Homo sapiens: one gene and its partner. The protein of the gene in region 1 purifies or fractionates together with the protein of each later gene. This does not show direct contact. Each region holds a gene or a part of one and is shown on either strand. Other genes may lie near its edges.

Region 1 (3,756 bases):
TATTAAAAATACTAGTGGACTTTGAACTTGTACTTTTAGCCAAGAGGGAGTTATGGGGAATCAGATTTACTCTCCTGCTTGAAATAACCCAGGAAGAGGAAGGAGAAGGAGAAGGGAGGGGGAGGGGAAGGGGGAAGGAAGAAGAAGAAGAAAAGTAAACAGCAGTTCTTAAGACACTGGACATCTGTAGTGATGGACAGCAATCTCTCACCAAATGGGGAACAAATGCTGTGAACTCTGTGATTGTCCTAGCTTCCAGCCTTGAGAGAGCATCTGGGCTGTGGAGGAACCCAAATGGAGCCTGGAAGACTCCATGATTTGAGAAGACAGAGCCAAGTTGCAGGAAGACAAAATTGGGTTGAGTTTGCAAGAGAGAGTACTGGAGAAAAGAGCACTATGAAAGAGTCCCTCTTGAGTGTTCCTCAGACTCCTAATCAGCAAATGCATAGAAGGAAATTGCCCAAGGACCAGGGAAGAGCCATTTGAAAGGTTTAGAGGGAACCGTATCTAGTGCTCACACAGGGCTGAAAACAGTGCTTGTTACACCAGCTAGAATGGAAAGCTTCATGATTCACAGGGCATTGGGTAGAGTACTTAGAGGCATCTTGCCTCATTAGGACTAGAATAAATGGCGCACTGGTCCCAGCTAACACATCTTAAAAGTAAGACCAGAAAGGATCAAACTGTTTCCAAATCACTTATCTCCTAGAAGAAAACACAAGAATATTAATAGGAATACAGAAAGATCCAGAAACCAACAAGGTAAAATTCACAATGTCTCCCATCCAATTAGAGATTACTAGGTATGCAAAGAAGAAAAACAACCTATAACAAGGAGAAAAATAAAAACTAAATCACACCTGACATAAATGTTAGAATTAGCAGACAAAGACATAGTAGTTATTATGACTATACTCTTTAGTTAAAAAAGTTAAGTAGAGACATGGAAGATATTTGAAAAGATGCACATCAGACTTCTAGAGATGAAAACTATAGTGCTTATAGATGAAAAAATGCGCTAGATGGGATTAATGGCAGATTAGGCAATACAGAAAAAACGATTCATGAATTTGAAGATACAACAATAGAAATTATACAAAATGAAACGCAGGAAAATAATTTTAAGAAATAGTATTAGTGAACTGTGAGACCACATCAGATAGCCTAATGTACGTGCAGTTAAAATCTCTAAAGGAGAGAAGAAATTGGAAAAACTAATGGTCAAAAACTTTTCTAAAACTGTAGACACACACATTTAAGAAGCTCAGTGAACCCAAGCACAACTAAAATAAACTGTATACGAATTGATCAAAATTAATGATAAGTAGAAAAATTTTAAAGCAACCAGTGGGGAAAAAAAGACACATTAAATGCAGAGGAGCAATAATTATGAGAACCCATTTCTCATCAGACAGTCAACAGTGATCTGTAAAGATTTAGAAGTGGACAGTGAGCACTTAAAGAGCTGCTCAACATCATTAGGTATTAGGGAAATGCAAATCAAAATCATAATGAGATACTGCTTCACACCCACTGGGAAGGCTATCATAAAAAAAAGAATAACAAGTGTTGGCAAGGATGTGGCGATATTGGAAGCCTCATACATTGATGGTGGGAAACTAAAATGGCGCAAATGCTGTGGAAGATAGTTTGGCACTTAATTAAAAGGTAAACATTGAGGCCAGGCGTGGTGGCTCTTGCCTGTAATCCCAGCACTTTGGGAGGCCGAGGCGGGAGGATCACCTGAGGTCAGGAGTTCGAGACCAGCCTGGCCAACGTAGTGAAACCCTGTTTCTACTAAAAATACAAAAATTAGCTAGACTTGGTGCTAGGCACCTGTAATCCCAGCTACTCGGGAGGTGGAGGCAGGAGAATCGCTTGAACCCAGGAGGCAGAGGTTGCAGTGAGCCGAGATGGTGCCACTGGACTCCAGCCTGGGGGACAGAGTGAGACTCCATCTTAAAAAAAAAAAAAAAGTTAAACATTGAATTACCAATCTGACTCAGAAGTTCTACTCCTAGGTGTGTTTCCAAAAGAGTTGAAAACACACGCTTATATAAAAACTTGTATATGAACACACATAGCAGTATTATTGTTAATAACCGAAGAGTGAAAACAATCTACATATTCACTAACTGGTAAAGGGATGTACAAAATGTGGCATAGCCATTTAATAGAATACTGTTCCACAGTAAAAAGTATGACAGCTGATACTTGGCTACAACATGGATGAATCTTAAACATACTAAGTAAAAGAAGACATGCAATAAGAGCACATTTTGTTTAATTCTATTCATATAAAATGTCCAGAAAAGGCAAATGTAATTTATAGAGACAGATGTACATTAGTGGTTACCTGGGTTTGGAGGTGGGAATGGGAGTGACTACAGGTGGGTACAAGGATCTTTGCAGAGTGATGATAATGTTCTCAAAATGGATTTTGATAATGGCTGAACAACTGTACATTTACTAAAAAATCATTGAATTCTGTGCCTAATGAGTGAATTTTATGGTGTGTGTTATATCTCAGTACTGTTGTTTAACAAAAGCAATTGACTGTTTAAAACAAAAATAATGTGTTGTGAAGTTTATGATCTATAGAAGCAATATATATAACAAAAATAGTATGTAGCGCTGGGATGTAGGAGATGAAAGTACATCATTGCAAGGTTCTTACAGTATATGCCAAATATTATTTAAATGTAGACTGAGATAAGTTACACATTGTAAACTATAATCACTAAAAAAGACGTGTAACTAATAAGTCATTAATAGTGATGAAATGTTAAAAAATATATTAAATACAAAGGAATTTTTTTACCTTTTTTGTATGTATGTTTTTCTTCCAGGCTTTGGTTGGAGAGAAGGCTTGTTATCAATCCATCAGTAGCTATGGTGGTCAGATCTTTTATTTGGGGACAAAAGTAAGCTCTTTTACTCTGTGAGTTGGTATTTGTATGTATCAGGGTAGTTGAGGCTGAAGGAGATTGCTGGTAAAGAGGGCAGTATATTGCAAAGTGAATATTGGTCAGCAATTATCCTAAACCCTTTGTGGTTAGGTAGGCATGATTTTTAGTTAATTATTTTTTTCCTCTACTTTTAGACATATTCTTTACTTTTGTTTAGGTGCTGGCTAATAGGATGCTTATTTTCTTGATTCAGAGATGTGCTTTTGTAAGCTTCCTTCACGTTTATGTTTTTATGACCAGGCAGCTACCTAATCATGGATATTTGTCATGTACTTAAGATGGCTGTTAGCTTAGATCAGCTTAGGATGCTGATTAAAATGTATTGAGGTATTTGACTTAGAATAGAATTGTTGGAATAGGAACTTTCTGTACCTCAATTTATCTCAGTTTGTTCCTGTGCTTTTTAAAAAACATGGAGAAACATTTCTTCATTATTAAAATTTAACCAAAATATTGCCAAGTCAGTAGAGGGAAATGAGCTTGGGCTTTCCTTGCTTCTTGTCCATGGAATTAACTCCTTCTTGGACTGTAGACCTTTAAATAGACTTACTCTTTAATGTGAGTTCTAGGCCAGATGCGTTGCCTCACACCTGTAATCCCAGCACTTTGGAAGGTCTTGGCGGGCAGATCACATGAGGCTAAGAGTTCAAGACCAGCCTGGCCAACATGGCAAAACCTTGTCTCTAGTAAAAATACAAAAATTAGCCAGTTGTGGTGGCAGGTGCCTGTAATCTCAGCTACTCGAGAAGCTGAGGAATGAGAATCATTTGAACCCCGGAGGTGGAGG
Region 2 (3,756 bases), on another chromosome or scaffold:
TCCAGCCTGGGCAACAAAGCGAGAGTCCTTCTCAAAAAAATAAAATAAATAAACTATCTTCCCTGCTTGAGGCACTGCTCTCTTGTTTATTTCAGGAAAGACACAATGCTAAGACCGTGGGGGAGATCAAGCAGTTTGTTTCCCAGTTGCCCCACATGCAGGCAGCAAGGGGCTCGCTTGCAAACCATACCTCAATTGCAGAATTGATCAAAGATGTCACTAGTGAGTATCCTTTGTAATGATTGTTTCAGTCTGGGGCTACTTGCACATACAACGTTTGACACCTAGGTCATCAACACCACAATGCCTCTTCGGGAGAGTCAGCTCTGTCTTAATACCACGTGTTCTTCTCAGTGTTAATGAAGTATACATATGTTAATAGTTAAGGATATTCCAGGCGGGGCATGGTGGCTCATGCCTGTAATCCCAGCACTTCGGGAGGCCAAGACGGGCAGATCACTTGAGGTCAGGAGTTTGAGACCAGCCTGGCCAACATGATGAAACCCCATGTCTACTACAAATACAAAAATTAGCCAGGCACAGTGGTATGCATCTGTAGTCCCAGCTACCTGGGAGGCTGAGGCAGGAGAATTGCTTGAACCTGGAAGGCGGAGGTTGCAGTGAGCCGACATCACGCCACTGCACTCCAGCCTGGGTGACAGAGTGAGACTCCATCTCGAAAAACAAAACAAAAAGAATGTTCCATTTGTTGGCCAGGCATGATGGCTCACATCTGTAACCCCAGCACTTCGGGAGGCTGAGGCAGGCAGATCACTTGAGTCCAGGAATTGAAGACCAGCCTGGGCAACATGGCGAAACCCTGTCTCTACTAAAAATACAAAAATTAGCTGGGCATGGTGGCACATGCCTGTAGTTACAGCTACTCAGGAGGTTGAGGCATGAGAATCACATGAACCCTGGAGGCAAAGGTTACAGTGAGCTGAAATCACGCCACTGCACTCCAGCCTGGTTGAGCGAGACTCCATTAAAAAAAAAAAAGACTGGGCGAGGTGGCTCATGTCTGTAATCCCACCACTTTGGGAGGCCGAGGCAGGTGGATCGCCTGAGGTCAGGCATTCGAGACCAGCCTGGCCAACATAGTGGAACACCATCTGTACTAAAAATACAAAAATTAGCCAGGTGTGGTGGCGGGCACCTGTAATCCCAGCTACTCAGGAGACTGAGGCAGGAGAATTGCTTGAACCGGGAGGCAGAGGTTGCAGTGAGCCAAGATTGCACCACTGCACTCCGGCCTGGGCGACAGAGCAGGACTCCATCTCGAAATAACGAAAGAAAGAAAAAGAGAAAGAGAGGAAGGGTCCATTTTTTAACTCAAATTTTTTCATTATCATTTATATGAAAAATATTTGGAATGTAGATAAGAGAAAAAAATTATCCATAAGTTTGCCATCATAATCTGAGATGGTTAATTTTTTTAGTCTAGCTTTTTTTCTTTTTTTTTTTTTTTTGAGACGGAGTTTCACTCTTGTTGCCCAGGCTGCAGTGCAATGGCACAATCTTGGCTCACCGCAACCTCTGCCTCCCGGGTTCAAGTGATTCTCCTGCCTCAGCCTCCCAAGTAGCTGGGATTACAGGTACTTGCCACCACGCCTGGCTTATTTTCTATTTTTACTAGAGATGGTGTTTCACCATGTTGGTCAGGCTGGTCTCAAACTCCCAACCTCAGGTGATCCGCCTGCCTTGGCTCCCAAAGTGCTGGGATTACAGGCATGAGCCACCGCGGCCAGCAGCTTTTTTCCTTTTTTGAAGGATTACTTATTGGCGCATGTTCTTCCCTTGAATATTCTGTGCAGAATTGGTACAAAGAGTATATGTTGAGTATTTTGAAAGAGCTCAGAAGACATCTATTAAAGCAGACATGAGTTTGTTTGTTTGTTACAACACAGGGCTGTAAAAGCTGAGTAGGAGATTGTTTTATGAAGTATACTTCGAATCTTAAGTAAATCACAGTTATCGGAAAATCAGTCCTTTGTTTCCCTGTTCATAGGAGTGGAAACCAGTTGAAATTGGGTTGAACCTAATGATGAAAATGAAATGTTCTTGAGAAATTAGCTTTCATTCATACTGACGCTCATTCTGGGGTCTGTACTGAAATCCTAAGGATACAAAAGAGTGCACTTGTCGACTGTATCTAGTGTAACTTAGGAGTGCAGAGGCCTAGCGTTTTCCATGTTTCCTAAAAGATTTTCTTCAGGTGATGACTTGAACTTATTGCTTGCTTGCTTTTTTGCATGATGTCTGGTTTCTTTTCTTTTGAGACAGAGTCTCGCTCTGTTGCCCAGGCTGGAGAGCAATGGTGTGATCTTGGCTCACTGTAACCTCCGCCTCCCCGCCTCAAGTGATTCTTGTGCCTTAGCCTCCCGAGTAGCTGGGACTACGGGTGTGTGCCACCATACCCAGCTAATTTTTGTGTTTTTGGTAGAGATGGGGTTTGGCCATGTTGGTCAGGCTGGTCTTGAACTCCTGGCCTGAAGTGATCCACCCACCTCGGCCCCCTACAGTGCTGAGATTACAGGTGTGAGCCACCGTGCCCAGCCACATGTCTAGTTTCTGAATCGTGCTCTGTGTATAAAAGCATGCCACTCAAGTAAATTAACATTTAATTTCTAAGTTGCAAATTTGCTAATTTCATTTTAGCTTCTGAAGACTTTTTTGATAAATTAACCGTGGAACAGGAGTTTATGTCTGGAATAGACACTGATAAGGTATGTGGACAAAAAAACCTCTTTAACAAGTAATTGAAAGCTTATTAAACCTCAGATTATAGCCAGAAAACCAATTGCTTTGATTCCCATGCCTTGCCTTTTTTTTTTTTTTTTTTTTTTTTTTTTTTGAGACGGAGTCTCACTGTGTGTCACCCAGCTTGCTCTGTTGCCCAGGCTGGAGTGCAGTGGCGCCATCTCTGCTCACTGCAAGCTCCGCCTCCCGGGTTGACGCCATTCTGCCTCAGCCTCCCGAGTAGCTGGGACTACAGGCGCTCACCACCACACCTGGCTAATTTTTTGTATTTTTAATAGAGACGGGGTTTCACCATGTTAGCCAGGATGGTCTCGATCTCCGACCTTGTGATCCGCCCACCTTGGCCTCCCAAACTGTTGGGATTACAGGCGTGAGTCACTGCGCCCGGCCACTTAAATATTTTTAAGAGCAAATGCAAAATGTGCAAGTGTAGATTTTATCAAGTAACAGATATTTAACATTATTCTGTGCAAGACACTTTCTGCCATACATGGCAACATGAGACCTGGCCCCTAAAATCAAATCTTTTTAAGACTGTATTAGATAAGGTATTTGCTCTTTTGAAAGAGTTTCTTATATAACTCCTTTAAATAGCTCTATTAACAAATTTTAAATTATTCACTTTATGAAAATTCCTAACATAAAACAATTACTGATACTTTTTGCTAGATTAGTTGTTGATACTATTGAAATGGAGTAGACATCTGGTAGCCTCTCAGAAGCGTGTCCTTAGAGACAGACGTGTCCAGACAGGCATATGGAGTGACCAATTGTATTCTCAGCGGCCTTGGGCTCCAGTGACTTGGCCTGATCACTGGGGGGTGTGTGTGTGTGTGTGTGTGTGTGTATGTATGTATGTGTGTGTGGGGTGTGTGTGTGTGTGTGGTGGCCAGGGTGTGTGTGTGGCTGGGGCTAGCAGAGCTATTTCGGGGAAGGGTTAGGGACTGTGGAAAAATAACTCATTTTCCCACGTATCTCCTTTATTGGACTTTGAAA

What was found. Proteins that work in one complex are often made in the same cells at the same time.
Region 2: the proteins of VPS8 (region 1) and VPS33A purify together in Homo sapiens (affinity purification with mass spectrometry; 2 studies listed by BioGRID and IntAct, with this or other methods). This does not show direct contact.

The regions. Positions count from the first base shown.
Region 1 is NC_000003.12:184,864,027-184,867,782, forward strand, and holds part of VPS8 (vacuolar protein sorting-associated protein 8 homolog), read left to right. Parts: intron 1-2,849; coding exon 2,850-2,924; intron 2,925-3,756. UniProt on the Homo sapiens protein: Plays a role in vesicle-mediated protein trafficking of the endocytic membrane transport pathway.
Region 2 is NC_000012.12:122,238,848-122,242,603, reverse strand, and holds part of VPS33A (vacuolar protein sorting-associated protein 33A), read left to right. Parts: intron 1-95; coding exon 96-222; intron 223-2,658; coding exon 2,659-2,726; intron 2,727-3,756.